Regions from separate parts of the Homo sapiens genome. Here region 2 is linked to region 1. Evidence: fine-mapped expression QTL. A gene starts in region 1. The other region holds a variant in brackets. All regions are shown on one strand. Distances are from middle to middle.

Region 1 (12,018 bases):
ATCAGTATACAGTTCCAAGAGTCTGGAGGAGGCCCTTCTGAGTTGTGAGATTATGAGACCAAGGTTCAGGATCTCAAAGTTTTGCTGCATTGTGGATGCCAAGGGCAGTTTTTCTGTGATGTTGCCCTCAGAAGACCCAATCGATCTCCAGGTTCTAGATTGTGAAAGGTTTGATTGTCCTCAGTCAGTGGACTATGAAAGTTTTTTTTAACCTGGTGAAAATACACTTTGGCATAATGCATTAAAACCTTGTAGCATTTAGTCATATCAGTATTTAGTAGCAGAAGATACAAGACGTTCTATTATTAGGTGCATAGGCCTTTCCAGTGACTATTTATTTCATAAGGGGTCAACTTCCATCTTCTACTGGAAGTGGATCTGATTGTCATCAATCTGGTACACCTTTGACCAAGGCAATCTAGTCAATTCAGTTAGCTTTGCCTAATGTTATTGTATCTGCAATCCTTTTTTAAAAACTGGCCAGCCGCGGTGGCTCATGCCTGTAATCCCAACACTTTGGGAGGCCAAGGCAGGAGGATCGCCTGAGGTCAGGAGTTTGAGACCAGCCTGGCCAACATGGTGAAACCCCATCTCTACTAAAAATATAAATATTAGCCAGGCATGGTGGCAGTTGCCTGTAATCCCAGCAACTTGGGAAGCTGAGGCAGAAGAATCACTTGAATCCGGGAGGCACACGTTGCAGTGAGCTGAGATCATGCCATTGCACTCCAGCCTGGACAACAGAGGGACATTCTATCTCAAAAAAACCAAAAAAAAACAAAAAACTGTTTTATGGCCAGACGCCGTGGCTCATGCCTGTAATCCCAACACTTTGGGAGGTCGAGGAGGGTGGATCACCTGAGGTCTGGAGTTCAAGACCAGCTTGGCCAACATAATGAAACACCACCTTTACTAAAAATACAAAATTAGCTGGGTGTGGTGGCACATGCCTGTAATCCCAGCTACTTGAGAGGCTGAGGCAGAAGAATCACTTGAATCTGGGAGGCAGAGGTTGCAGTGAGTCGAGATTATACCATTGCACTCCAGCCTGGGCAACAAGAGTGAAACTCTGTCTGAAAAATAAATAAATAAATAAATAGGCCAGGCGCGGTGGGTCATGCCTGTAATCCCAGCACTTTGGGAAGCTGAGGTGGGCAGATCACCTGAGGTCAGGAGTTCAAGACCAGCCTGGCCAACATGGTGAAACCCCGTCTCTACTAAAAATAGAAAAAATTAGCCGGGTGTGGTGGCAGGCGCCTGTAATCCCAGCTACTAGGGAGGCTGAGGCAGGAGAATTGCTTGAACCCAGGAGGTGGGAGGCGGAGGTTGCAGTGAGCCGAGATCGCGCCATTGCACTCCAGCCTGGGCAACCAGAGTGAAACTCCGTCTCAAAAAAATAAAAATTAAAAAATTAAAAAAAAACAAAATAAATAAATAAAACTGTTTTTACAACTTGTCCAGTGAAATAAGTATTAGTACTTCTATCACTACAACCAGAAAACATGCACTGAAAATGACAATTGAATAAAATTCTTCTATAAAGGTTTAAGTGACCCATCAGGTAGCAGAAATGTACTTGAAGTTGTGTTCATCTTCCCAGGATTATGGGTTTAACAAACAAAACATTGATCATAAACTATTTTAGCAATTTAGAACAGTCATCATACACACCCACTCACGCACACACATACACACACATTTAATTTGGAACATTTTATCTCTTCATGATGAATCATGGAAAGCTTAATAATGGAGGCTTTAAGGACTCAGGAAGGGCCAGGCAGCCATCAGGGTTCTCCATGAGTCTGCGCCTAATATTGGACTTATATTTTAATACCAACTGTGTTTCCCCAATTTAGGTGCATAGCACTGTTTATTAGATGGGTTAGCATAGGTAATTTGAGTTGGACCATGGAATTTATTCAAATTGCACATCTTAACAATTTCCATACTGGCTGATCTAGTATGACAATTTGGCAAAGTATTTTCTTGGTATTCAATTATTTATTTATTTATTTGAGACAGGGTCTCACTCTGTTGCCTAGGCTGAAGTGCAGTGGTGCAGTCTCAGCTCACCGCAACTTCCCCCTCCCAGGCTTAAGCAATCCTTCCACTTCAGCCTCCCAAGTAACTGGGACTACAGACATGCACCACTATGTCCGGCTAATTTTTATATTTTTTGTAGAGACAGGGTTTCCCCATGTTGCCTAGACAGGCCTCAAACTCTTGGGCTCAAGGGATCCTCCTGCCTTGGCCTCCCAAAGTGCCGGGATTACAGGCATGAGGCACTACCCCAGCCTTCAATTAATTCTTGTCCTGTTTGGGTTAGCAGTTTTATAAACCAGTCATTCCTTTTATTAGAGTTCTGAGAATTCTTACCTAGTCCAAATGATGTGATCCTAAAGTTATCAGAAAGCTGTATTTTTTTTTTTTTTTGAGACGGGGTCTCGCTCTGTTGCCCAGACTGGAGTGCAGTGGTACGATCTCAGCTTACTGCAACCTCCACCTCCCAGGTTCAAGCGATCCTCCTGCCTCAGCCCCCCTAGTAGTGGGGATTAGAGGCACATGCCACCATGCCTGGCTAATTTTTATTCTTTTAGTAGAGATGGGGTTTCACCATGTTGGCCAGGCTGATCTCGAACTCCTGACCTCATGATCTGCCCGCCTCAGCCTCCCAAAGCACTGGGATTACAGGCGTGAGCCACTGTGCCCAGCCGTTTTTATTCTTTTTTAGAACAGGGTCTCACTATTTTGCCCAGGCTTGTCTCGAACTCCTGGGCTCAAGTGATCTTCCTGCCTCAGCCTCCCTAAGTACTGCGATTGCAGGTGTGAACCACCACACCTGGCTTCCTTTAGATTTTTTAATTTCTTGTCATGAAGTGGTACAAAAAGTAGTCTTTTATAATTATTTTATTCTCATCTCTCTGCTTTATTTTTTAAGTGGCAGACTTCTCTACCATGTTTTTCTACACTATTATACAATGTAAAGAACAAGGGTTTCTACTGGTAAATGGTCTTATTACTCATCTAAAATATAAATCTTTTTATTTATCAAGAATCATAAGACATATTTTAAATAACTATGTGACTTCACGAAGCATAAGTAGGCCAGGCATGATGGCTCATGCCTGTAATCTCAGCACTTTGGGAGACTGAGGTGGGAGGATCACTTGAGCCCAGGAGTTCGAGACCAGCTTGGGCTACATAGGGAGACCCCCCCCCGCACCATCTCTAAAATATATATATATAGTTAAAAAAAGAATAATTAGTGTAAGAGATAACAATGGCTCATAAATTGTATTACTGTTGATCACTTATGATATAATCTGAAATCACAACGAACTGCTGAGGGTTTCGTACAAAAAAAGTTTAATTTTTATTTCCAAATAACTTTAAAAAGCTAGAACAGCTTTTAGATTTTGAGACGGCCATCTCAATATATTTGTTTATCTTCTGCAGAATGAATAAAAAGGATTATTTTTAATTTCTTAAGCCAGTCTGAGAGCCTCTGTCTCTGAAGCCAGTCTGAAAAAATCTTTGCATTAATTATACTGATTCATTTATTTTGCAAATATTTTACAAATACATATTAAAGCACCTGTATGCCCTTTCTTTTCTAGGCACAATGGCATATCTGTGAATAAAATTGACAAAGTACTTACCTTTAAGGAGCTTATACTCTCGTAAAAGGGAGACAATGAAGAAACAAATAAATGAATCAATGTATAATGGGACAAGCGGTGATAACTACCATGAAGGAAAATGAAGTAGGGGCCGGGTACAGTGGCTCACGCCTGTAATCCCAGCACTTTGGGAAGCTGAGGTGGGCAGATCACCTGAGGTCAGGAGTTCGAGACCAGCCTGGCCAACACGGCAAAATCCTGTCTCTACTAAAAATACAAAAATTAGCTGGGCATGGTGGGGCATGCCTGTAATCCCAGCTACTTGGGAGGCTGAGGCAGGAGAATTGCTTGAACTCAAGAGGCGGAGGTTGCAGTGAGTGGGGACTGCACCACTGCACTCCAGCTTGGGTGACAGAGCAAGACTCCGTCACACACACACACACACACACACACACACACACACACACACACACACAAATAAAGAGGGATTCAGGCAGAGGGAACAAAAGTGCTACATTCCTGCAGGAATAAAGTGCTTAGCAAGCTCATATAATAGCAAGGCAGTGCCAATGTGACTGGAAAAGAATGAGTTTCAGGCCGGGTGCGGTGGCTCACGCCTGTAATCCCAGCACTTTGGGAGGCCGAGGAGGGCGGATCACGAGGTCAGGAGATCGAGACCATCCTGGCTAACAAGGTGAAACCCCGTCTCTACTAAAAATACAAAAAATTAGCCAGACGCGATGGCGGGCACCTGTAGTCCCAGCTACTCGCGAGGCTGAGACAGAAGAATGGCGTGAACCCGCGAGGCAGAGCTTGCAGTGAGCCAAGATTGCGCCACTGCACTCCAGCCTGGGTGACAGAGCGAGACTCCGTCTCAAAAAAAAAAAAAAAAAAAAAAGAATGAGTTTCAGTAGAAGAGAGGTAGGTAGCAGGGGGGCCAATTAGCTGCTTATTGCTGATTTCATTATATGAATATATCAGGATATAGCCATTCTACAGTTTTTGATGTTTGGGCTATTTGTGATTTTTTTTTGCTATTATGAACAATGGTACTATGTCCATTGTACATGTTTCCTGGTGCACTTGTGCAAGAGTTTTTCTACAATATATACCTACAGGTAGAATTTCCTGGTCATAGTGTATAAAAATGTAAACAAGGTCATTTTTACTACATAACAAGAAATTGTTTTCCGACGTGGTTGTACTGATTCACATTCTCTTGAGAGAATTCTCTTACAAGAATTTTGGGTGCTCTTCTTTTAGTTTGTCAACTTTGTCGTTGTAAATATCTAATTGTGACTTAATTTGCATTTTACTGATTACTGATGAGATCTGGCGTTGTCAAATAGATCACTTCCCTTTTTTTGAAGTGCCATGGCTTGCTCTCTAATTTTTACAGGTTATTTAAACTTTCTTTTTTTTTTAAAAGAAAAAGGCCAGGCATGGTGACTCACCACCTGTAATGGCAGCACTTTGCGGGGCCGATGTGGGCAGACAGCTTGAGCCCAGGAGTTCGAGTCCAGCCTGGGCAACATGGTGAATCCCTGTCTACAAAAACTACAACAATTAGCTGGGCATGTTGGTGCCTGCCTATAGTCCCTGCTACTTGGGGGGACTGAGGTGGGAAAATCACTTGAGCCTGGAGGTTGAGCTGCAGTGAGCTGTGATCATGCCACTGCACTCCAGCCTGGACGACAGAGTGAGACTCTGTCTCAAAAAAAAAAAAAAAAAAGAAAAGAAAGAAAGAAAAGAAAAAAAAAGAAAGTCCAAATAGGATTGGAGGGGTAGAAAGGGAAAAAGAGGTGTGAGGAAAAAGGTGTACTGAAAATCCCTCAGTGGGCCGGGTGCTGAGTTGAGATTGCGCCACTGCACTCCAGCCCAGGCGACAAGAGCAAGACTCCCTCTCAAAAAAAAAAAAAAGAAAAGAAAAGAAAATTCCTCAGGGGTTTTCTAACACTATTTTTATTTTCATTTTATTTATTTATTTATTTTGAGATGAAGTCTTGCTGTTGCCCAGGCTGGAGTGCAATGGCATGATCTTGGCTCACTGCAAACTCCACCTCCTGGGTTCAAGCGATTCTCCTGCCTCAGCCTCCCTAGTAGCTGGGATTACAGACATGCGCCACCACACCTGGCTATTTTTTGTATTTTTGGTATAGACGGGGTGTCACCATGTTGGCCAGGCTGGTCTCGAACTCCTGACCTCGTGATACGCCTGGCCTCTGCCTCCCAAAGTGCTGGGATTACAGGTGTGAGCCACTGCACCTGGCCTCACTATTTTTATTTTTAACAGCTTTAATTTTAACTTCATTAGCTATATTAGCATCCAATCTGTAAAAATTATTACATTGGAATCAGGCGTGGTAGCTCACAGCTGTAATCTGTAATCCCTGCATTTGGGAGGCTGAGGCAGGAGGATTACTTGTGCCCAGGAATTTAAGGTTACAGTAGTGAGCTATGGTTTCGTCATTGCATTCCAGCCTGGGCAACAGAGTGAGACCATATCTCTAAATACATATATATATGATTACTTTGGATTTGAGAGTAGAGTCAGAGAATTTAGAGGAAACTAGGCTGTGGTTTTCACACGATATTTTTCCTTGTTGCTTTTGCCTTTATGCAAAGTTTTCCTTTGTCTTTGGAGAGTAGAAAAACTGTGGATTTTTTTTTTTTTGAGACAGAGTCTCACTCTGTTGTCCAGGCTGGAGTGCAATGGTGCGATCTTGGCTCACTGAAACCTCTGCCTCCCGGGTTCAAGCGATTCTCCTGCCTCAGCCTCCCGAGTAGCTGGGATAACAGGCATGAGCCACCACGCCCAACTAATTTTGTATTTTTAGTAGAGACAGTGTTTCTCCATATTGATCAGGCTGGTCTCGAACTCCCGACCTCAGGTGATCAGCCCGCCTCGGCCTCCCAAAGTGCTGGGATTACAGGCGTGAGCCACCGCACCCGGCTGCAAAAGACATACTTTATAAAGGTCCAAGGATAATGGAAATAGAAGACATTAATGTAATATGTTCTTGGGAACTAATTGGATACACCAAGTATTATCTTTGACTAGTTTCTGGACTTCTGCTTCATTCTGCAACCTGCAGCCAACTACCATGGTGTCCATCTATTATTAGGCGCTTTAAATAGCTCCTTAATTCACATTTACTCTCTTCAATCGATGTGTCAGACTGTGGGGGCCACTTAATTCCCATTCCAAATTCTTGGGAAAGGAATTTAATTGGGTTGAGCTTAGGTCAGGGGCTTACTGAAAGAGCAATCAACTGGGGCCCAGGGACAGGGTGCACTGTGTGAATGAGGCTGCTTTTTCTGCAAATTTGTCAAGTAGAGGCAGACTGGACTAGCTACATAATTTGCAGGGCCCTGGGCAACATGAAAATGCTGGGCTCCCTAGTTCAAAAGTTTCATTATTGTTTCCAAAAGTTTGCAATTGCAGACAATACTGCGATTAATAAACTTGTGTATGTGTATTTTTCCATTGTCGGAGACCTAGCCCGAGTACTATTTTCTGCAGCGAGCCTTTGACGTTGTTTCCTTTTTCTGATGAGCCACAGCATTTATAGTAGGAATTTGTTCATATAAAATTTGCTCTTTCGCTAGATACCAGTAACTGGACTTCTCTAATTGCTTTGGGTATTTCATTGGAGTTCTGTATGACTGAGCTCCGGGAAACTCAGTCCACCCCTCATTCCAATTCTTTTTCACAGTCTTTTTCACAGCGTCCCTGTCAACACTGTTTGGTAAAGGGTAAAACCTTAGATAATAAGGTTTTTATTATCTTAACACAGACAGGCCTAACATATGTTGTCGTACCTTTCTGTAGGATCAATAGCATATCTTTACAAATGAGAAATAATTTTCACGAGACCGAAACACCCTGCAACGCCACCTACATACAGGGTAAGTACGCGCCTTGGTGAGGTCAGCGGCGCTACACACCCGAGCACTAGGGGACGACCTTCCCTGGTTTCTTGCATTAGCAGGACTTGTCCGGAACCTTTCCTGCGGAGTCTGAGGTAGCCCGCCCGGACAACGCCGCTGAACACACAACAGGGCAAGAACTAGTAGGTTAACTGTATGCCTGGAATTTCTACCTCACCTACATGTTCCCGGAGCAAATAATCTTAAATTGTCGCGCTATTTAAAGTCCCTAGTGACGATAACATTGTTGTACCTCAGCAAAGATCATAATTAATTGTTTCCGAGAGAGTGTATGCTTGATTTTGGTCAGGCATATATTTGGGCAGCCCACCTGAAACGAACAAGGAAGGCGGGGGAAGAAAGCGGAAGCCGCGGGGCCTTCTAAGGCCGAAAGTCTTCGGAGCTTGCGCCAGTCTCTTCGCGGCGTCCACCACTTAGACGCAAGTTGCTGAAGCCGGCCGGGGAGAAGGTGTTGTTGCCGGAGCTGAGACCGGGCGGCCACAGTCCGCAGGGATGAACCTCGAGTTGCTGGGTGAGAAGGGCTGTGGCTGCGTTTTAGAGAAGCGTTGGGTACTGGAAAGGAGGGAACCCAGGCGGGAGGGGAGTCAGGCTGCAATCTTAGGGACACTGTTCGGCTATGGATCACTGGGCACACCTGATGTGGAGCAGCAGCGGGAGGAGGAAGCCCACCTTCTGCCCGAGTAGGTTGCATTGCCCCTCCCGAGGCCACTTTCATATCAATTATGGAGCGATGGGGACAGACAGTTTGTGACTTAGCTTTGATTATGAGGATCGCAGGTGTTGAAGTACCCAGAGCAGCCAGGACCAGAGTTGTTGGAGATGGAATTTGAAGAAGTGAGGCTTGGGATGAAGCTTTGAAGACTTGTCAGGGAATTGGGTGCCTGAACAGGTTAATCTTTTTGTAGAAAAGAGAAGTCTAAGGAGGGGACTTGGAGATCTTCTGGTAGAAGCTTCTCATTGAACAGATGAATAAAGGCTCAGAGGGTAATGGCTAGGCACTAAGCAAGTAAATGGCATAGTTGGCACTGGAATCCAATTATCCTAACTTTCTGTTTAAGGTCCTTTGCTAGGGACGGTGTGTAAAACACTGAGGTGTGAAATACGGAGGGAGTTGTCTTTTGTCGCCCTCACTTTGAGTCATTGCCTCCTTACCTCCTATCCAGATTATTTAAAAACTGTAGGTCCTTTCTCCTGGACTTCCATTAGGTGACATTTAGCATGGTATTCTAGGGGTAGCTGAGGTTTTCAAGGACTTCTGCACTACTTGCTGTTCCTAATGGTTAGGTTTCTCTTTTAAAAAAGTCAGAAGATATGTTAATTGTCAAAAGGGCTACAAAGATACATAAAAAATGGTCTTTGCCCTTAAAGAGCTTTTCATTAAGCAGGGAGTTTAAGGTGATTATGTAAAATAGCTGTAGGATATTGCAGAATGTAGGCAGGCCTGAAAGAGTCATTACCAGTTGCTAAGAATGTTTGGAACAGAGAGTGAATGTCTTTGGGGTAAAGGAAGAAGTCAACCAGGAAAAACAAACCCCCCAAACCTGTGGAGGAGTTGGAGTTTTAAGTGGACTTTTTTTTTTTTTTTTAAGACAGCCTCGCGCCGTCGCCTAGGCTGGAGTGCAGTGGCACAGTCTTGGCTCACTGCAACCTCTGTCTCCTGGGTTCGAGTGATTCTCGTGCCTCAGCCTCCTGAGTAGCTGGTACTACAGGTGCGCACTGCCATGCCTGGCTAATTTTTGTATGTTTAGCAGAGATGGGGTTTCACTGTGTTGGCCAGGCTGGTCTCAAACTCCTGGCCCCAAGCAATCCACTCACCTCAGCCTCCCAAAGTGTCCGGCCTTAAGTGGATTTTTAAGGTTGGTAAAATATCAACAGGCTGAAGTATGAAAATATGGGAGGGATGTTCAGTAGGCATCAGTGAGAGAAGACCTAAAGAATTTTCCTGCTTGGCCAGGTTGTGGATAAAGAGAATGCCAGGGGATGGGATCGGTGCCATCTATTTTGTGTTGGTTCTCGAATGCCTAGCTCAAAAGTTTGGGCTTTTTAGGGAAGGTAGGGTAGATCCATTGAAGGATTTTGACTTAGTAACTCAATCAGAGCTATGAGTTTGTAAGGTTTGTCTGACAGCAATGTGGAGTTGAGTTTTGGAGGAGTGTAAAACCAGTTTGGAGGGGTAGATTATATGAGTGATGAGGAAGGCCTGAGCTAGGAAATAGAAAAGACATTGAGGAGGTAGGGATGACAAATTTGAGAATAGATTGCATATAGTGCTGATGAGTAAGAGAGTGACGTGAAAAATGGTGAGAGCAAATAATGATGCTGTTGATAAAGTGTAAGGTCATTGGAAAAAGACAGCTTTGGAGAAGCTGAATGTGGTCTAGGGGTCAGGAGACAGGTTTGGATTTATGGGAGAGATTTGTATTCTTTCAGATGGGCTCATTGAAACCTTGTGAATAGAGGACATGATCTAGAGAAAAAGTGGGAGGGGGAGAAAAGAAAATTGCCAAGCACACAATCTGTAGTTAGAGGTTAAGAGGAGGAATAAGTGGAGATAATAAGTTAGCTAACGGTTATAAAGTACTTTCTCTGAGCTAGGCAGATTTTCAAGTGCCTTCCATGTATTAATCTATGTAGAGGAAGAAGAGAGTACAGATTGGTGTGGCGTCTTCATAGAAGCCAATCAGAGCAGTTGAGTCTGAGGGCTGAGAATGGGTTGCTCTGTTTAGTCCTTTGGCAGCTTGGGACTCCTCAGCAGCTGGAACAGAAACCAGATTACAATGATTTTAGAATGGTGTGGGAGACAAGGGCAAAAGGTTGACGCTTACTTGTAAAAACTTAAGGATGGAAGAAAGGTGATAACGCTAGTACTTTGAAAGAGTAGCAGGATCTTGCAAAAGGCTTTTCTTGAATGATACAGAAGGTTCATTAGGATAAAACTTAGGAAGGAATATTTATTTTTATTTATCTTTTGAGACGGAGTCTTGCTCTGTTGCCCAGGCTGGAGTGCAGTGGCACAATCTCGGCTGACAGCAACTTGCGCTTCCCAAGTTCAACCGATTCTCCTACTTCAGCCCTCCCGAGTAGCTGGGATTACAGGCACCCAACACCACACCTGGCTATATTTTTTGTATTTTTAGTAGAGACTGGGTTTCACCATGTTGGCCAACCTGGTCAGGAACTCCTGACCTCAAGTGATCTGCCCACCTTGGCCTCTGAAAGTGCTGGGATTACAGGTGTGAGCCACTGTGCCCAGCCAGGAAGGAATATTTAGCACTGGAAGGTTAGACAAATTAAAGAAGCCTGGGTCCGAAAGATAACAATCTCTGAAAATGACTCTGCATTTTAAAGTGAGAAAGTTAATGATTATAGATAAAAGGAAAGGAACAGAAGTAATGTGATTGTGGAAGCCTACTGAAGGACATCTGGCCAGATGAAGGAAATGAATGACAATGTATTTTTAATGTGGTTAGACAAGTGGCTCATAGGTAGACACTAGTTTTACTTCTGCAACCACTTTTTGAGTCCCTGCTGTGTATTCACCAGTGTGCACCGGAGATATAATTAAATAAGATCATTTGTCAAACTTATTTTTACCACAAATCACAGTAAGAAATATATATTCTATCACAGTTCACTATATATACCTACACGTGTAACTAAGTTTCTCAGAATTATATTTAATCCTTGTTATGTTCAGTGTTCTCTGATAGTTTCTTTTCTTTTCTTTTCTTTTCTTTTTTCTTTAGAGGGAGTCTTGCTTCTGTCGCCCAGGCTGGAGTGCAGTGGCATGATCTTGGCGATCTTGGCTCATTGCAACCTCCGCCTCCTGGGTTTAAGTGATTCTCATGCTTCAGCCTCCCAAGTAGCTGGGATTACAGGCGTGTGCCACCATGCCCAACTAATTTTTTTTTTATTTTTAGTAGAGACAGGGTTTCACCATGTTGGCTCAGCTGGTCTCAAACTCCTGACCTAGTGATCTGCCCACCTCGGCCTCCCAAAGTGCTGGGATTACAGGCGTGAGCCGCTGCACCTGGCCGATATTTTCTAATCTATTGCAACATTTGTTCCAACTCACTAAATTAATGTATCCATTTATGGTGGATTGCGTCTTACTGTTTGAAAAACATTGAAATAAGATACCACTTTTGCCCTCGTAAATAGAGCTAAGAGGAGAGACAAACAAGTAGCTGTGTATAATAGGGAACCACAATAAATGAGCTATGGGAATCCAGCTAAAAGCACTTACAAGCAGTTGAGGTGGGGTGTGGTGACTCACGCCTGTAATCCCAGCACTTTGGGAGGCCAGAGTGGGTGGATCACCTGAGGTCAGGAGTTGGAGACCAGCCTGGTCAACATGGTGAAACCCCGTCTCTACTAAAAATACAAAAATTAGCCGGACATGGCAGTGCATGCCTGTAATCCCAGCTACTCGGGAGGCTGAGGC
Region 2 (10,490 bases), 56 kb after region 1:
CCTTTGCTTATGTCTCACTCAGATGCCTCTTGCTATAAATTGCTGCTGCTTATGTTCACTGGAAACACAGAGGAGCTGTTCCTTCCCATTCTGGGCCTAGCTGATTGCTTCCTCACCTTATAGCCGGTGACTGCAGACTCATTTCGGAAAGGGACCACAGGGTCCCACTTAATGCTAAGACTAGAGCTTGAGAAAGTCCAGGAGATGTTGCCAGGAGGTCGCCGCGGAGCTGCCAGAGAGGAAGAATTGGAGAGATGTCCAAACGTTTCCCTGGCACCCCGCACCCCCTCACCTTTAACCAGCCCTTCTCTGGATGTTTGCCTCTAGCAGTTACACCCAGCACATTCTGTCATGCCCACGAAACAAAGCCCATGAAAATCCAAAGGTTGGAGAAGTGTGAGACGCTTCAGGGGCCATGAATTCCATTCCCTTATTTCCATTAGGCTCGCTGCCTAATTTCTGTTCAGCCCAGAGCTGGTGGGCTAGAGCATTTGTCTTATCATTGGGGAAGGAATGATCTCAGAGGCACCCACCCTCCAAAATATTGCCCTACCCCCACCCCAGGCAGACAGACTCACGGGGCTTCATGGTCGTGGCGTTGGCAGAAGGGCTGGCAGGCCCAGTGCCAGCCCGGTTGTAGGCCCTCACGGTCACATGGTACTTGGTGTTGGGATGCAGGCCGCTGACTCGGGCACTGGTGTCCAGCCCTGCTGTCCTCACTCGGTCCGCAGCTGCTTCTTTGTCCCCAGCTTTCCAGTAGCGGATCTGAAGGAGGCGGGGGTACCCAAGGGGTAGTAGTCAAGCCCAGGATCTCAGGGCTGCCCCGGCCCCCACATTCTGTTCCTCTCTTGCTCATCCTGGTCCCTGTGACCCAGTCTTAGGCCTCAGAACCTGGAGACTAGATCATGAGCACCCAGACAGCAGGGCCATGTGGGTGTGAGTCCCTGCTGTCTGTTGGTGCGTAGTTCAAGGAAGGTGCTCAAGACATGGGTCAGGGAGGGAGCTGGTGGCACAGGCTCAACCTAGCAATGGCCTGCTGGAACCCATTTCATTTCATTAACTTGGGGGGCTACCGTGGGCATTCTGCTAAGGGACAGAAAATGCTTATTTGTATTGCAAAGTAGTCCCCTGGCCCTAAGCAAGCTTCTGAAGGTTGCCTAATAAATGCAAACCCATTTTCATGGTAATCATAGCATGAAGACCTGCTAAATATGCTTTCAAAGGCAGAGGCAAGGGCAGAGTTTGGAATTATCTCCACACTGTGGCTTGCCTAAGCTATTGTACTCAAATCTAGAGTACTCTACTAGAATGAACTTGTGCTATCACTAGTAGGCCCAGCTTGATGGTTTCTTCTTGCTTTTCCTTCTTTCTCTCCCTCTTGCTTCCCATCACTTGCCATCTGCTCCACAGGTACCCCTTTGTGGAGTTCTCAGTGGGCCCAGGACTCAGGCCAGACTGCTGGGCCCCAGATTCCCCCGGGACAGGATGATCAACTGTCCATAGAGCGGCTCAGGCTGTTTTCTGTGCAGCCCTGGACAGGCCAGCCTGAATGGGCTCTGGGATGAAAGGGGCAGGCCATGCCCCTTCCCAGAACCTGTTCCTTCTACCCTCTCAGCTTCCAATGCTGGCTCTAGCCAAGCATTTACTTTAAGGCTGCCTCCAGGGTCTGTCTTCCCCAATGGGCATAAGCCATGGGGTCTTTTTTTTTTTTTTTTTGAGATGGAGTCTCGCTTTGTCACCCAGGCTGGAGTGCAGTGGCGCAATCTCAGCTCACTGCAACCTCTGCCTCCTGAACGCAAGCGATTCTCCTGCCTCAGCCTCCTGAGTAGCTGGGATTACAGGCATGGGCCACCATGCCCAGCTAATTTTTGTATTTTTAGTAGAGGCGGGGCTTCACCATGTTGGCCAGGCTGGTCTCAAACTCCTGATCTCAGGAGATCTACCGCCTCAGCCTCCCAAAGTGATGGGATTACAGGCATGAGCCACCGCGCCTGGCCTGCCATGGGGTCTTAGTGAAATTTGCATTCACAGTGCTACACAGACTGGATGCTCAGTTTGCCATGTCAGCGAACCAGGGACGCCAGGAGGAATGATTAGTGGTCTGTGAGTTGTTCCCACCTGGCTTTGAAGCCCCAGCACCCCTTCCTCTCCCAAGTCCCAGGTTGGTGCTCACCTCATACCCCAGGAGGATACCATTCATGTCCTGCTGCACGGGTTCCCAGGTCACGTTCATCTCTGAGGATGAGACCCCTTTGGCCCACACCTTGGTAGGGGCCACCCTGGGCTCTGGGGACCAATACAGAATGGGTTTGGATTCCCAGGGCCCCCCTGTGTCCTGCAGAGCAGCCCCCAACCAGGATTGCCTTTGCTTAAGATTTTGGAGGAAAGCCTTCAGGATGAAGGCCGAGTGGGAGCCCCCCAAGCAATGCTCCAGGGCCCACTTCTATTCCCAGAGAGCCTCCCTTTTCCTAACCCCGAAGGGAGACAAGGTAGCAAGAGCTGGAAGTGAGGCCAATGATGTGGAACCCAGGTGTCCTCTCAACCTCCTCCTATGGAACTGAGCTGGGAGATGAGTAGCGTTCCCCCACCCCACATCCCTGTGGACAAGTGGCTGGGGTAGGGACGAGCAGGGGGCCCAGGGGCAGCCCACCTTCCTCAGCTGAGTACACGAGTGCAGTGAGGCTCTCGGGCCCATCCCCGCGGCGGTTGTAGCTGCGGATCTTGACCTCAAAGGGCGTGTAGGGCCGGACGCTCTCGTTGCTGTAGACAAAGTACTGGGCATCGGCGCCAGGCACCCGGGCGGTCTGCCAGTGAGTGCTGCCCTGCCTGCGGAAGGACAGCAGGTAGCCGAAGCCGTCTCCGTTCTGGTACTCCCGTGACATGGGCTGAGGGGCAAGAGCATGGCATGGGCGAGGGTCCGCGGCATGTGTCCCTGCCCGTTCCCTGGCCCCACCCAACCTTTGCCAAGAGTAGCGGCCCTGGACGCCTACGCCTGCAGCGTGGATTCGCGTAAGGGGCAGCGGGTGCGTGGAAGGGGGACAGGAAGTTATCCGCGTTTGAGTCAGAGCTGTGCAGTGGTCCTTTCTGCAGCTGCTCAAGCGGGAGAGGGGTCAGGGAGGAGGAGGAGGACATCTGACCCTTGCAGCTTACCGTCCAGTTGACGATGAGCTCTCCGGGGGCTCCACCTCCTCCGCTGAGTCCTGAGGGTGCCACCGAGGGGGCTGTCAAGGGCCAAGGGACACCGATATGGCTTGTTAATGAGCAAGGAAAAAATGAAAGCCCTGAGCCTGTGCCTGTAGAGCACCGTAAGATGGGAACCCCTTCAACTGGGCCCTGGGTTTGCCCCCCAGTGGTCCCTCTGAACATAGGCTTTGGAGTCAGGCAGTCCTGAAATCAAATCCCACCTCTGCCATTTACTAGCTGTGCTTCCCTGGGCAAGTCACTTAACCTTTCTGAGCCTCTGATTCTCTTCTCCATGAAGATAATCATGTTTCTCTCAGAGGCCATAATGAGAATGAAATTAGACAAGACGGTGGTTAGTATAGAGCAGATGATGCACACATGATCATTGTCCTCCTTACTCCATCAACTTAAACTAAATCACAGAGACCAACTCTCACTCGCTTTAAAATAAGGGGAATAAATAACCCAGAACTGCAGTTAATGCAAACAAACAAACAAACAAACAAACAAACAAACAAACAAAACAAACTACTTTTGGGCTCCAGGGTGATATATTATCTATTTTTCTTTTTGTTGCAGATTTAATCTCCTAATTGTCTCTAGTATTAAACAAGGCTGATATTAAAACAGGAATTTATTTCATCAGCTCCTGCAGCTTGGCAGAAAGTAACTTGGCTGGGGGTCAAAATATTTCCGTAGAGAATCCAGCAGCTGGAGATTTTTCACTTGCTTCTGATGACAATAGTTTAGGACCGTGTAATTTGCAAGAGGTACTTAAACACATTGGCCATTTGATCCTGTGAGGTGGGTGTTATTATTGCCCTTTTCAGGGTGGAAAGACTGAGGCCCAGAGCAGTTAATCAACTTGCCTAAGGTCACACAGTTAATACATGGCACAGGTAGAATCTGAACTCAGCCCTTCTCATTTTAAAGCCCATCATGTTTCCTTTGCATCACAGCTGTCTTTGTGCTCCTCAGCTACTGGGATGCTGTAAATAGAATAAAGGAGTCCCCTCATTTCTCCACATTTGACCCTCCAAGAAGTTCAGGATCAATCAAAGAAAGTGCTGCCTCTGGAATTTCTTACTCAGGAGAGGTACCAGCTAAAAATGTTGAGTGATTCTAGAAAAAGGGCCTGGAGAGTCAGTCTGGGGCATGTAGGAGAACATGTTTCAGGCAGACAAGAAGGTGGACCCTCACTACACATCCAGTGCAACAGGTCTGTAGAGGAGGTGAGGCAGGGTCCTTAATCTATGCTCCTGGTCCCAGGATCCCCGGGCTCTCATTCCAGGCCTTCCCCTGCGAATGGCTCGGAGATGGGCAGGAGCCTCTCAGCAGATGCTGACTGGAGCCTGTGCCTCCCCTACTCTCTCCTGGGTTCTTTTCTCCCCCTCCTTCTCCACTCAAGTTCTGACACCCACACGCTTTTTGCTGAGGGTTGTGGGCAGGTTATTCAATTCCATCTGCTCCCAAAGAAACCATCTAAAGGCTTGGAGACACTGGCTGCTTCCCTAGCCCCCTGCACAGAACACACACACATCTTTCACATCAACTGATTTCCTTTTTTTCTTTCTTTTTTTTTTTTTTTTTTTTTTTTTTTTGAGATGGAGTCTCGCTCTGTCGCCCAGGATGGAGTGCAGTGGTACAATCTTGGCTCACTGCAACCTCCACCTCCCGGGTTCAAGCGATTCTCCTGCTTCAGCCTCCCGAGTAGCTGGGATTTACAGGTGTGTGTCACCACGCCTGGCTAATTTTTGTATTTTTAGTAGAGACGGGGTTTCACCATGTTGGCCAGGCTGGTCTCAAACTTCTGACCTCAGGTGATCTGCCTGCCTCGGCCTCCCAAAGTGCTGGGATTACAGGCTTGAGCCACTGCGCCCAGCCAGCATTAACTGATTTCTGTAGTGCATACTCTTCCAGGAAGACATCTGTCTACCACCCCATGGTCCTGGGTTCAAGTCCAAGCTCTGTCAATGTGACTCTTCCTTTCTCCGAACTTTGGTTTTTCCACTTTTAAAAATTAAACTTAAAAAAATTATAGATGCACATGCAGTTGTAAGGTTGGCCAGTTTTTAAATGAGGAGTTTGGACTAGATGGTTTGTCCATGCAGTGGCCCTGGTCCCAACTTGGTGTTCTGTCCTCCTCTGTTTTGTGAGAGTCTGAACCCTGTGAGCAGGGTTGGAACTCAGCATAATTGCGGCTGGCTTGGCATTCCCTATAAGTGGTGCCAGGGTCTCTGCCCTGATGATAGCTTTTTGGGACACACAGGACTCTCACCTGCTTCCCTGGTCCGGATTTTGCTGGAGGGCCCACTAGGCTCCCCAGTGCCCAGAATGTTGCTGGCTATGACCCGGAACTCATAGTCCATCCAGGGGGTGAGGCCCAGCACCTGTGCAGTCTCGGCATTGCCCTCGATGTTTGCAGGATCTGCAAGGCACCAGGGAGTCCATATTCCAGCATTCGCTTATTCATCTGGGTGCAGAGGGCAGGCACTGGCCTGAATCACCCCTTATCTACCCAGCCCTCACTTCGGTACTTGCCATATACTAAGCACTCAGTACCTTTTTCAGAAATGATTGAAAAACTACTCAATTTCCCTATCTTGGTGCCTCTGCAATGCTGTGTGCACGCCTACGCCCCTATGTCCCCATGAATATTTTCATTGCTCCAGTAACAATCCTACCAATTCTTCAAGGGCATAGACCAAGCGCCTCCTCTTCTAACTCTTTCCCGACTCTCCTACTTTCTGTGTGACTGTCTTCCTGCCTGCCTGCATGCTCTCTGCTGGCAGAGGACAGATCTTGTCCCTCTTTGAAGCTCCAGGCTCAGCCCTGGCCCTCAGACCCCGATCCCCAAACCTTGACCCTTTCCACCTCCTACACCCAGTCGAGCCTTATCAGCACTGACCCAGGTGGGGCTCACACTTACTGGTCCGAACCTGCTTCCACTTCCCTGCAGGTGGAGTGCGAGCTTGCAGGGTGTACTTAGCGATGGGGCTGTGGTTGTCGAAGCCACGGCTCCAGCTGAGCTGGATGGTGGTGTCGCCAATGTCCCTCACCACCACACCTCCTGGGGGACCTGGCGGACCTGCACCAAGAGGTCAGAGCACAGTGGGTCAGAATTGGGCAGCTTCCAATTTGAGCCAACCTCCTCCCAGCCAGGCTTGAGCTGGTACAGTACCAAGACAGGGCAGCAGAGGA[T/C]GCAGTGAACACACACCCAGGCGGGAGGGCGGGCAAGGGGTGTGGGCAGTTGGGGCGGGTGCCAGTTGTTGGGTGGAGGGATGTGTCTCAAGGCTGGGGGAGCTCACAGAGGCTGTCACATGGAGAGGTGCATAGATCTCCCAGCACTAGGCTTTGAAAACTTCAGGGCTCAGTAAAGCACTCCTGTCTTGGGATGTGTTTAGGAGTGGATTTTTTAAACTTTGACTTTGGAAGAAAAATGTCCTGATCATTTAGGACCTGTGAAGAACCACAGGGTATATCCAGCTCACAGGAGTTCCGCCGGAAGCCCTTCCCCGCAGCTTTGAGGGAAGGGAGGGGAGATGAGGCGAGCAGGTCAGAACAGCCCAGCTGGGTTTTAAGGGAGTTGGGGTAGGGGTAGAGGTGGGAAACCCCTCACCTCGGACCAGGACTGTGGCCTCCTTGGACGCGCTGTCCACCACCGTCTGGGCCATGCACGTGTACTTCCCCCCATGGCGCAGCTGGGCGTTCAGGATGGTCAGATCCCCAATGGTCTCCTTCTGCACACGGGGACAGTTAGGGGCAGCAGGTCAGACCACCGGCCCTGACCAGTGCAGCAGGCCATGAGACATGAGGCAGCGCTTGGGAGTCCCCTACTCCATGACATCCATGGACCCCACTGGATCTCAGTTTTCCTGTCTGCTCAATGGGAGGAATCACGACTCATCACTTAGAACCACTGGGGACTAAACAGCAAAGTTTGTTTCAGGAGACAGTCAATGACTGTCCACATTAATAATATCATTTGCCCTAGGGGACAGGCTAACAAGAACAGTAGTGGGAGTGTCTTGGTGGCTGCCCACAACTCCAGGTTTGTCCCTAACCCTCTCCTAAATGCATGGTCCCTGGGTGGAATCCAGGAAGGTCAGCTGTTCATCCAAGGATGAGCTTGCCATGTGTGGGCCTGAGGGAATGGGGGCGCTTAGGCTATGGGTTTCTTAAAGGTGAGGATGGCTAAGGACATCTTGGGGCCCCTGTCTCTCTAGAAGGAGGGAGAAGCCATGGGGCTCTGGCCCTAGGTCTCACCACATTAGTTCTCCGGTAGTGCCCTCCAGGCTTATCAAAGTCGATGGGGAAGTCGTCCAGGGTCCAGGTGAAGGTGAGGTCCATGGTGGGGTCGTGGGAGGCATGGCACTGTAGGGTCAGGTTGTCACCCAAGTTGATGTCGGCACTTGAGGGGGCTAGAGTGATTTTGGTTGCATCTGCCAAGAAAAACAAGGCCCTTGGGTGGATGGGGGAGGAAATGGGCCCAGGCCGGGTCCGCAGGGCAGGCTGAGAGGCTCTGTCCTAAGGCCCAGCAAAGAGAAGAGGTGGTGTGACCCACAGGTCCCAACTGCCCAGGACTGCATGAGTGTGTGGCAGGCAGGGAGGCATGACCAGAGTCTCAGTGGTGGCCAGGGGGTGGTCCCAAGCAAAACTGAATCCTGGGGTGGCCTTGACACCAAACTAGGAGCAATGTGGACACAGGAGCAGGATGATGGGGAGGACAGTACCCTGAGGAGGCTGAGCCCCCGGCCTACCCACATGGCAGCCCTCACCTCGCACAGATAGGATTCCAGTGCTGTTGGCTTTGCCCATGAAGTTCTCAGCAAAGCAGGTGTATTTGCCTTCATCTGACCGGCTGATGTTTCTTATGATCAAGGTGCCATCTGGAGTTACAGTCACTCTGTGGCAAGGACAAGGCAGATGTGGCCAACTCAGGCATGGTTGTCCCTGGGGCTGGCCAACTCCTGTGACTGTTGTCACAGGAGGGGAATTGGCCTCCATGGAGAATGAGGAGGAGCAGGAACTGTGCAGGGTGGGGTGTGGGTGGTACCTGCTGCTGTTGACCAAAATCTCCGTGCCTTTGCTCCAGAGCACCACGGCCTTTGGAGCTGCCCGGGGCTGGCAGGGGATAAGGATCTCTCCCCCGCGGGCCGCGGGGATCAGACGCCTCACGGGATTCAGCCTGAAGTCAGGGGCGAGTGCTAGAAGGAAAGGGGAGAGCCACAGAGAAAAGTACTGTCACCCTTGATTAAGACGTTACTTGGCGTGCCCTTTGAAGCCACGCCATGAGTGACTCCTATTAGCACCTCTTCCAGAATGCATCCAGAACCAAGCCCTTTTTTCTCTGGCCTAAGCTATCAAATCTCCCGCCTGGACTATTGACAACGCGCCCCCCCTCCGCCCCTCACCACCACCCCTGCCACCCCACATCAGTCTTCCTGTTTCTGCACCTTCCTTCTACAATCTTTTCTCCACCCAGTTGGGAATGAACAGCTTTTTCAACTCACACTCAGTGAAGCCCGGCTCTTCACAAATAAGTCTCCACCTTTCCAATCGCATCTTGCTCCACTCTATCCCCCATTCATTATGTTCCAATCACCTAGCCTTTTTTTTTCTCTCTCTCTCTCTTTTGAAGTTGTGAAGTCTTTTCCTGCCTCCAGAGCTTTGCACTTGCTGTAAATCTTGCCTGGAAATTCCCCAGATCTTCACGCGGCTGGCTTCTTAACATTCAGGTCACAGTCTAAATGAGACTTCCTCAGAGAGGACTTCTCTGACCACCCCACCTAACAGGCCCATCTCACGCCCATCACTCTACTGGGTTTTCTTTTCTTTTCTTTCTTTCTTTCTTTCTTTCTTTTTCTTTTCTTTTCTTTCTTCTTCTTTTTTTTTTTTTAAAAGACAAGTCTTGCTGTGTTGCCCAGGCTGGAGTGCAATGGCACAATCTCAGTTCACTGCAGCCTCTGCCTCCAGGGCTCAAGTGATTCTCCTGCCTCAGCCTCCTGTGTAGCTGGGACTACACGTGTGTGCTACCATGCCTGGCTAAATTTTGTGTTTTTCATAGACATGGGGTTTCACCATGTTGCCCAGGCTGGTCTCAAACTCCTGAGCTTGAGGAGATCCACTCACCCCTGCCTCCCAAAGTGCTGGGATTACACAGGCATGAGCCACTGCACCCTGCCTGGATTTTCTTTATACTATATTTGATGGCTAGCTGAAATTATTTAATTGTTTGATTTGGGGTTTATTTGTCCCTTTCCCTCTACTGGATTGTAAGCTACTTAAAGGCAGAGACCGTATCTTTTATATTCATCCCTGTGAAGTGTTGAGTAAGTAGTGGTTGAATGGATGAAGGAACGAATGAATGCTTCTTAGCAAAGCTTCACTAAAACCTGATGTGGTGGGTATCACTGTGTCCATTTTATGGATGAGGAAACTGAGGCTCAGTGAGCTCAAGTCACACAACTAAATATTAGCACTGGCTTACATTTCCCGGGCACCTGCTGTATGGTGGGCAGGCCCTTTATGCTGTACCTCTTTCATCTCACTTGTTCCATACAGCAGCCCAGGAGGGCAGGACTATTATTGCCTATATTTTATAATCAAGAAACTGAAACACAGAAACACTAAGTAACTTGCCAAAGCTCACATAGCTGAAAGGGTTGGGTTACACAAATCTGATTGATTTGGTTTCTGTTTTTTTCACTCACTGCAGCAAACATTTACTGTGTGCCAGACATGGAACAAGTCAGAGACCCTGCCCTCTGGCAGCTGTCAACCCTGTGTCTCATCTCCTTTCTTAAATCTCTGAGTTCTCCTACTTAGAAACTGTTGGAAAACCAAGGAAAATGGCCACAGGGTATGTGCATGTGTGTTTGGAAACACCTAAACTCAGAGCTCTGAAAGCCACCATATGCATGTCCTTGGGATGTCCCCTGCCTCCCTGGGCCCCTTACCTTGCACGGCTAGCTCGGCGCTGGCGTAGATGGTACCGTGCTTATTCTCTGCCACACACTGGTACATGCCCGAGTCTTCCAGGCTCAGCTTGGAGAACCGCAGGTCCCCAGCCAACACCTCCACCCGGTTCTGTGCAGAAGAGCCCAGAGCCCAGGGGGATCAGGACCACAGGAGCCACAGGGAGGAGGGGTTGGCAGGGGTGGGAGCAGTGGAGACTCTAGGCTGATAATCCCTAGAGGATATGGCTTATATGTCCAGTCCTACCTCAGGGCTGCCTGGAACCTCAGGATGCAGATTACCCAGGCCTCCCCAAAGCTGGAAGGGTGAGGTGACCCAGTCAGGACCAC

Which allele goes with the higher level. Alleles are on the strand shown, and positions count from the first base shown. SD is a standard deviation of normalised expression in the study named.
As copies of T replace C in region 2, the expression in anterior cingulate cortex of the gene that starts at base 7,962 in region 1 goes up (small effect, 0.29 SD a copy in GTEx).

The links.
Region 2: its variant is fine-mapped to the expression of RBBP5 in anterior cingulate cortex (GTEx, PIP 0.90).

Annotation. Positions count from the first base shown.
Region 1 is chr1:205,117,922-205,129,939 of GRCh38, reverse strand. RBBP5 (RB binding protein 5, histone lysine methyltransferase complex subunit) reads left to right here and starts at 7,962. Exons shown (of 14, transcript NM_005057.4): 1 at 7,962-8,085. The coding sequence starts at 8,067. RefSeq lists a silencer at 6,985-7,279 and enhancers at 7,641-7,860, 8,001-8,180, 9,344-9,902.
Region 2 is chr1:205,062,222-205,072,711 of GRCh38, reverse strand. CNTN2 (contactin 2) reads right to left here. Exons shown (of 23, transcript NM_005076.5): 10 at 10,143-10,272; 11 at 8,240-8,390; 12 at 7,962-8,089; 13 at 7,450-7,625; 14 at 6,803-6,923; 15 at 6,113-6,271; 16 at 5,462-5,611; 17 at 3,151-3,221; 18 at 2,651-2,885; 19 at 2,174-2,286; 20 at 579-765; 21 at 117-229. Among named protein-coding and RNA genes, the nearest start is that of TMEM81, 17 kb to the left of the region's middle. RefSeq lists an enhancer at 1-294. The variant T/C (reference allele first, on the strand shown) is at 6,385.